Linked DNA regions of Homo sapiens: regions 1 and 2 are each linked to region 3. Evidence: fine-mapped expression QTL. A gene starts in region 3. Each other region holds a variant in brackets. All regions are shown on one strand. Distances are between the middles of the regions. Region 1 overlaps LOC105370198 (a long non-coding RNA gene). Region 2 overlaps LOC105370198 (a long non-coding RNA gene). Region 3 holds the start of ITM2B (integral membrane protein 2B).

What was found. PIP is the estimated chance that this variant, and not a neighbour inherited with it, causes the effect.
Region 1: its variant is fine-mapped to the expression of ITM2B in whole blood (TOPMed, PIP 0.98).
Region 2: its variant is fine-mapped to the expression of ITM2B in lung (TOPMed, PIP 0.92).

Annotation. Positions count from the first base shown.
Region 1 is chr13:48,142,992-48,145,752 of GRCh38, reverse strand. The region is part of intron 4 of LOC105370198 (a long non-coding RNA gene); the gene reads left to right. Among named protein-coding and RNA genes, the nearest start is that of MED4, 49 kb to the right of the region's middle. The variant A/G (reference allele first, on the strand shown) is at 1,201.
Region 2 is chr13:48,123,268-48,126,028 of GRCh38, reverse strand. All of the region lies in intron 5 of LOC105370198 (a long non-coding RNA gene), which reads left to right. Among named protein-coding and RNA genes, the nearest start is that of MED4, 30 kb to the right of the region's middle. The variant A/G (reference allele first, on the strand shown) is at 1,372.
Region 3 is chr13:48,231,695-48,234,455 of GRCh38, reverse strand. It overlaps ITM2B (integral membrane protein 2B), which reads right to left and starts at 1,250. Exons shown (of 6, transcript NM_021999.5): 1 at 979-1,250. The coding sequence starts at 1,095. RefSeq lists an enhancer at 42-739 and silencers at 795-1,004, 1,015-1,374.

The DNA of each region.
Region 1 (2,761 bases), 89 kb after region 3:
TCAGGTGATCTATCCTCTGCGGCCTCCCAAAATGCTGGTATTACAGGCATGAGCCACTGCACCTGGCCTCAATTTTTCTGTAAATATGAAACTATTCTAAAAAAATTAAGTCTATTAACTTCAGAAAATAAAGAAATACTATAACAGGGCTAGTTTTAAATGTGATACATTTTAAATGTCTCTAAAACCTTGGGGCTTTTAAATCAAAGAAAAATATGCAATGTAATTGTGCTGCTCATAAAATAATTGTGGGATTATAAATACCTTAATTTATAATGCAGGACAGATGAATGGTTTAGTAATGGGAAGCATGTTCAAAGCTGTATGGTAAGAGTCACCTTCTTTCAGTCCTTTTAGTGCATCACTGTAAAATGTGAGGCCTCACCTGGAAATAACCAGCTCAGAGGTCCTTTAGGAATGTGAGGCCTCTGTTAAATGGAGCACTATGGTGCGCCTGCTGGGGGCTTAATTTTGTTTTTGTTTTGTTTTGTTTTGTTTTGTTTGTTTTGCTTTTTTGAGACCAAGTTTCACTCTTGTTGCCCAGGCTGGAGTGCAGTGGCATGATCTCAGCTCACTGCAACTTCTGCCTCCCGGGTTCACGCAGTTCTCCAGCCTCAGCCTCCCAAGTAGCTGGGATAACAGGCACTCACCACCACACCCGGCTAATTTTTGTATTTTTAGTAGAGATTGGGTTTCCCATCTTTTAGTAGAGGTGGGAGTTCGAGATGGGTTCTTGAACTCCTGATCTCAGGTGATCCACCCACCTTGGCCTCCCAAAGTGCTGAGATTACAGGCGTGAGCCACTGTGCCTGGCCATGGGGCTTAGTTCTTACAAGCCCACCTTTGACCCCACCAGTCCTGGTCTTGGACTCTGGTAGCGTGGCTGCCTACATGTAGACATTTCTGTAGCGTGAAGTGTCCATCTGCCTAGACTTCCAAGCCTCACCTGAGGCAACCACAATACTGAACAACTGCAATGACTGCAGCCACCCTTTTTAGCTATTGTGTTTTGCCTGCTAGGGTGGACTTCCTCCTGTATCTGGAGTACATTGAATTAGTAGTACCCAGCAGATATGGGACTGGGGATTTGAAAAGGAGAAACAGTTTCATCATGAACAACACGGCCTTCCTGCCAGGGTCACGTCTGTGTCTAGATACTGTTGCTGTACTTCCTGTATTCTCAGGGGTGGGCCTACTTCC[A/G]AGACAGATGCAATTCAGTACACTTACTGACGTCACTTTTCTTAAACTTTTTGCATTTTTTTCCTAATTATGATAGTGGTAAGAATTCCTTCCAGAAAATTTGAAAGTCACAGAAATGTAAAAAGAAGCACAGAAAAAAAAAATTATCCCAAATCCTGTATTACCCAGAGAGAACCACTAATGTCATTTTAGTTGTGTTATTTTTAGTTCCATATTTCATTCCTTAAACTCGCACAGTTTGGATTTTGCCTCCTCCGTTTTCCTAAAACTGCTCTCCCATAGGTTAAAAAATCTGTTGGCGAAAACTTCTCTGGAGTTCTCTGGATTCTATTTTGTCCTCCTTCTCAAGGACTTTATGCCTGCAATTATTCACCTTTTACTGCACTGTTAGTCTCTCTCTTTATGGAATGATTTCCCACAGTTTGCAAACATGCCTTAATATTGCTCATCCCTCTTGAAACCTCCTTAACCCCATATTTCCTCTGTGCTTTTCTTCATGGTAAAACATCTCAAAAGAGACATATGTATTTGTTCTCTCTACTTTCTCACCTCCAGTTCCCTTCAATGTACTCCAGTCGGGCTTGTCTTCATCGCTCTAATAAATGGCTCTTATTAAGGTGTCCTCCATTTTGCCAAATCTAATGGTCATTTCTCGGTCCTCATCTTACTTCACTTTGAGTAGCATTTGACATAGTTCACTCCACTCCTCTTCCAGAAATAATCTTGGCCTCTGTTGACACCATGCTCTCCTGGTTTCCCACCTATTTCATTCTTCCTTTGCGGTCTTCTTTGCTGGTCTTACTTTCTGTGTCTGACTTTTTTTTTTTTTTTTTTTTTTTAGACAGGGTCTCGCTTTGTTGCCCAGGCCAGAGTGCAGTGGCACAATCTCGGCTCACTGCAACCTCTGCCTCCTGGGTTCAAGCGATTCTCCTGCCCCAGCTTCCTGAGTAGTTAGGATTACAGGCGCACACCACCATGCCTGGCTAATTTTTGTATTTTTAGTAGAGATGGGGTTTCGCCATGTTGGCCAGGCTGGTCTTGAACTCCTTCAAGTGATCTGCCCACCTCGGCCTCCCAAAGTGCTGGGATTACAGGTGAAAGCCACCATACCCAGCCTCTATGTCTGACTTTTAAATGTTGGTTGCTTCCAGGTCTTCTCATTTCTACAATCTCTACTTGGTAATCTCATCAATCCCATTATTTAAACATCATCTACATGTTTTTTTTTTTTTTTTTTTAGAGACAAGATCTTGCTCTGTTGCTCAGGCTGGAGCGCAGTGGTACAATCATGGCTCACTGCAGGCTTGAATTTCTGGGCTCAAGCAATCCTCCCACCTCAGCCTCCCAAGTAGCTAGGACTACAGATGTGCACCACCATAGCTGCTAACTTTTTAACCTCTACCTGCAGGGGTCACGCAATTCTCCTGCCTCAGCCTCCTGAGTAGCTGGGATTATAGGCACCCACCACCACACCTGACTACTTTTTTTGTGTTTTTAGTAGAGACGGAGTTTCACCGTGTTGACCAGGCTGGTCTCAAACTCCTGACCTCAGGTTATCCAC
Region 2 (2,761 bases), 110 kb after region 3:
GAACTATGTTTAAGCTTTTTCCCTTCACCAGTTGTCCTAATGGGCCTGGCATTGCTTCTGAAGTGGAGAGAGTTTAATAAACCCAGGACTCCTGCTTAGTCCCTGGGCATTTTTGCCTGCTCCTCGGCTTGTTATAGGAGAGTGGAATGTCCTTGGAGAGGCCGAGGCACTGGAATTTGAAGTGAAAGAAAGTAAAGAGGGCTCTGTTCATGACTTAAAACGTTATTTCCTTCTTGTCAAGATGCTTACTGGCCACCTGGTAGGGTGACCCACCTTTCTGGTTTGCCTGAGGGGTTGCCTAGGACTTTCAGTGTTAAACCCAAGATAGAAGGCCTTGGGAGGATTGCTCAAGGCTAGGTGTTCAAGACCAGCCTGGGCAAAACTTAGCAACACCTTGTCTCTACAAAAAAAAAAAACAAAAAAAAAACAACAACAAAAAAAAAACAAACAAACACAAGAAAATCCCAAGTGAAGCAGACCACGTAAAGCACACCAATGGGGCTCGCACTGTGTGAACCAGTTCCTTGCTCTTCTCATTCTCTTCAGTTAGTTCTTCATCTCTCTACCCATATCTGCCAGGTGCTCTTTCTTTTCTTTTCTTTTCTTTTTTTTTTTTTGAGATGGAGTCTCACTCTGTCACCCAGGCTGGAGTGCAGTGGCATGGTCTCAGCTCACTGCAACATCTGCCTCCCGGGTTCAAGCAATTCTCCTGCCTCAGCCTCCTGAGTAGCTGGGATTACAGGCGCCTGGTACCACGCCCGACTAATTTTTTGTATTTTTAGTAGACATGGGGTTTCACTGTGTTGGCCAGGCTGGTCTTGAACTCCTGACTTCGTGATCCACCTGCCTCGGCCTCCCAAATCGCTGGGATTACAGGCATGAGCCACGGTGCCTAGCCCACGTGCTGTTTCTTATGCCTCCTAACAAAATCCATGATGTTTGAAAATGATTACACATTAGGGATTTACTACATTTCAAAAGTAACAAAGGAAAACTTTTTTTTTTTTAATGGGTGTGTGTGTGTGTGTTTGTGAGTGATGGAATCTCGCTCTGTCACCCAGGCTGGAGTAAAGTGGTGTGATCTTGGCTCACTGCAACCTCTGCCTCTCAGGTTCAAGTGATTCTCGTGTCTCAGCCTCCCGAGTAGCTGGGATTACAGGTGCCCACCACTATGCCTGGCTAATTTTTTGTACTTTTGGTAGAGATGGGGTTTCATCATGTTGGCCAGGCTGGCCTTGAACTCCTGACCTCTTGTGATCCACCCACCTCGGCCTCCCAAAATGCTGGGATTACAGGCCTGAGCATTCGCGCCTGGCCCAACTTCTTCATTTGAGTTTACAAATCACACAAACATGAACTTGACAATGGTGC[A/G]CCTAAACCACTATACTATAATAACTTGTCATTGTTTGTAGGCGTATGTAGTGAAGGTTGACTATTCCGTGTAAGGTCCAGTGGTAAGGAGAGGAGCTGAGTGGACAAGCAGATAAATGCCACCACACTTGCCAAGTGAGTGCTGTAGGAGGCCCAAGAACAGAGAGATTACTGTGGGCTGGGACAACTGGGAGAGGCTTAATACAGGCAGTGGGATGTGGAGAAGACTGCAGAGGAATCAGAAGAAAGGTGGGCTTCAGTGAGAAGAGACACTATTCCAAGCAGAGGAAACAGCTGCCTGCAGGACCAGGAATGCCTGAATAGAAGCTGCAGTGGCTGGTTTCCCTGAAGCTAAATTTTCAAATGCGTGATCAGTTTGAAGAGGGTGTGTGTAGGACAATTTCTGTATTTCTGTATTGTTGTTTCTGCATTTATTACAGGCAAAAATAAACACAACCTTACCAAACGGGAGCATTTTTTTCTCCTCCTGGCTCTTTGCCACCTTTTGTAGTGTTAGGCCTGGTCTCCCTAAAGAATTATCCGACTGTTTCAGTAAATATTTGGGGTGCAAAGAACTGGAGTATTGTCAAAACTTTTTGTGCCAACCCCGCCCTTCCTTCCATTGAGTCCAGTGCAGGGTGGGGCAGCCCTTGTAGTTCGAGTGAGGAAGCCATCCTTCAGCCCCATGTAAACAAGCGCTGGCATGCTCAGAGCACCAGCCCTGGTACTCATGTCCTCAGCAAATGCGATGCACGTTTCTACGTGAAATGCAATTTTCAATGACTACTGGCTTCCTTACACTTCACATCTCAATAATAGGCCTTCAAAGACCTTATCATAGATTGGACATAGCAAAATATCATAGCACGATTTCACCTAAATAGCCTTTTCCTTACATGAATTCTGCTGTTTCTTAGAGAAAGGAACCTCTTTCAATCCAGTCAAAGACAGGGTGAAGATGTGCCTTGTAAACTAGATACCCACTGTTACAAATGGCACCAAGGAAGAGAGAGTAAAAATAGAAAGTGCCTCTAGGGAGGTTTGAGAGAAGGGACACCAGGAAGGTTCGTATAATTCCACACCAGCTTTTTACCTGAAAATTCCTTCCACATAAAGATGAAGCTTTCAGATACTCTTGGAAGATTATGTCTTGCCTTACACACCAAGAGTCTACATCAATATTTTCTCCTTGGTGAGGAATAGAGGGGCCTCTGGTGCTTAAAGAGAAGAGACCGCAGATATGAGAAAACACTGCCAAAAAAGGAGACTCAGGATCTGAAAACCAAATCTCTTATATCCAAATTTTGCTAAAACTCACCATAGCTTTTATTTGAAATTGTGTGCATCATGGCAGCACTCTGAAAATCTGTCTTTTGTTTTCCTTGTTTTG
Region 3 (2,761 bases):
ACAAAAAATAAGATAAGCAACATAACTTTACAGTTAATTTCTAATTTTTGCAGCCTAAAAAGGGTCTGGGTAAGAGGCTGTGGGCTTTTTTAACTTATGAGACAATTACACTCATATTTAAGTAAATATGATCGTAACCTACTAAAAGTCAACACAGTAACAGCCCCACTTCATGAATTTTCCTAGGATTAAAGGGAGATTTTGTAAAATAAAGGAGAATTTTATTAGGGACCCGGGGGCAAATTTCTCATGTTTAGTTTCACGCAGCAGGAGTCCTCACAAAGACGCTGATACAATTTAAATGCCAACAATTGGTTTTTCACTAACATCCACATAGTCATTACTGGCCTTTACTAGTAATGGTAAGAGACAGCCCAAACCTACTTCGGGCGGACTGTCCCTTCGTCCCCTCTCCAGGTGAAGTTCACCTGCCACTACCGAAGGGCCGTGGAAAAAGGAGGTAAAGAAACGCTTTTAAAATTAAGACGCTTACAGTTGCTGGACTTAGTCCAAGTGCTGTTCAAGCCTAGAAACGAAAGTGGGAAACAACAGAGGTTTAGGCTTGTAATGATGTCAGCCATTTTAGGTACATTATTTATACTGGGAAGGAAGTGCCAAACTCGGTTGTTGTTGTTGTGCCTGTCGCTGCCGGTCCCCAGATCGAACAAGCCAAGTCCTGGCTGCACGCACGCTCCCCGGACTGCACAAACGACCGGGAATTCGGCACAATTAGCCAATCGTTCCCTCTCCAGGCCTCCCAAGCCCCCGACCCCGCGTCAGGCACCGCTTCCAGCACACGCACTTCCTTACAAAGGAGCTGCGGACCCACAGGAAACGGGAGCGCCGGGCTCTCTCGGGGACTTGTCCCCGCGGCGCGAGCCCCGCGCCCGCCACCTCGGGGCGCACTGCCGCTGCAGTCCGCGCAGCCCTCCCCGGCCGGGCCCAGCACCCGCTTCCTCGACCTCCCCGGGCTCGGACCTTGCAGTCCACCGCGACGGCGTCGGGGGGGATGATGAGCGCCTCCTCGCCGCTCTTGGGCTCGTCCTTCTTGGCCTCCTTCTGGGCCAGAGCGGAGTTGAACGTCACCTTCACCATGGCGCGGCCTGGGGCGCCCTCGAAGGGCGGCGGCGGGCTCGGGGCGCGGGCTGCGGGCTCCCGGCTGCGATTGCAGCCTCTACGGCCGGGCTCCGGGAGCGGCTCCGGGCGGCTGAAGAGGTTCGGGAAGCTCCGCGGCGGCAGAGGCGGCTACTGCGGTAGGGATCTCGCAGCCTCCCAGCTCCCGCGCGAGGGCGGAGACTGCTCGCACATCCCCTGGGAGGCGGGGCGGGGGCGGGGGCGGGGCCAGCGGCCGGGGGTGGGGTGCTGCGCGGGACCCTGCCCTCGCCCCGCAGCTGGGCGCCGGATCCCGGCGCGCCTCGGAGAGGGATGGGTGTCCCTCTGGGCCGCCTGGAATTTCCAGTTCTGAATTCGCTCCCAACCAGGTTACCTCCAGGCCGAGTGCTGCAGGTTTGTAGCGAAATCGAGTGAACTTTCCTGAGTTCGCCGGGTACAAGGGACTAACCTTTGGCAGCACCAGACCGCCGCTTCCCTGTACCCTGTCCCCACCGCGAGCCTAAAGGCCATGGAATTTTTGTGCATCCACATCTTCATTTTCTCACTTATTAGGTAACCGACTCAGTGGAGCACAAACATGTTTAAAGCTCTCTGTCCTTGAGATCTGACTTTATCTTTCACGGACCTCACCCAAGGGCGTTTACCTGGCTCAGACCTGCCTGGTCTTCCTTCCCTCTCTCAGGAGGTCAGGGCCTGTTCTGCCTAGTCCCAGACCAATGTGGAGGAAGCTCTTGGCAGATTTGTATTTCAAACATCTCACACTCGTAAAACGAAATGTTCCACTCTTGTGCGTACTTGGAAAAAAACCACATGCACACTTGGCTGATTTGTGACTCAAAGTACTCGATGACGAGTCCCTTTATTTTTCTGCAAAATGAAAAAATAATTAAGGATAACGCAAAATTCTCATGTTTTGAAGACGTTTCATTTACAACTAATGCGAGGTAGAATACTGGCTCCCGTCGTTACTGCGTTCATTACTGTGTCAACAGACGGCCCCCTTGGACAAATGTGTTATCTTGTATCCTTCCACCCCATTCTGTCCTGGTTCATCCAGAGTTGTGGGTGTGCTCTAGAATGTTACAGCTGTGTCAGCTCTGCCTTGGGCCAACCCTGAAAAAAGTGGGTTCAGTCTGAGATCTTTGGGGATTTGGCCCTGCTCAAGGAGGGAGTTGGGTATTTCCATAGAATGTCAGATCATAAGTCCCAGGGAAACAGCCCAAGATCTCCAAATCCTTCTGTTCATGTATTTCAGAAGCATCCTGGGCTGAGATAGAAACCCAGGCCAGACTTTGAGTTTGCTTTGGGTATTCAGAAATTCCTGTCAAAATGAAATCTGCTCAACCAAGAGGAGGATGAGTTAGGTTCCAGTTCTGGTGAGTTTTAACAGTAGCTAACCATACTTGCAGCAACTTATTTAAACTCCTGGGTCGCCCTTGTGCAGGCATCGGCTCTGTGAGGTTGACTCTATGGACTGGACTTTCATAGTATCTAATGTTATCTAATTCCTCAAAGTCAACGACTGCTTCCAGCTCCCTAGTTTAATAGGTTCCCTGAGACATTACAGTTGAAGACTAAGTATTTCTGGAAGCAAGATCTGGAGGATTATAAATAATTATATGTACATCCTTCCTACTTCGTTCTGTGT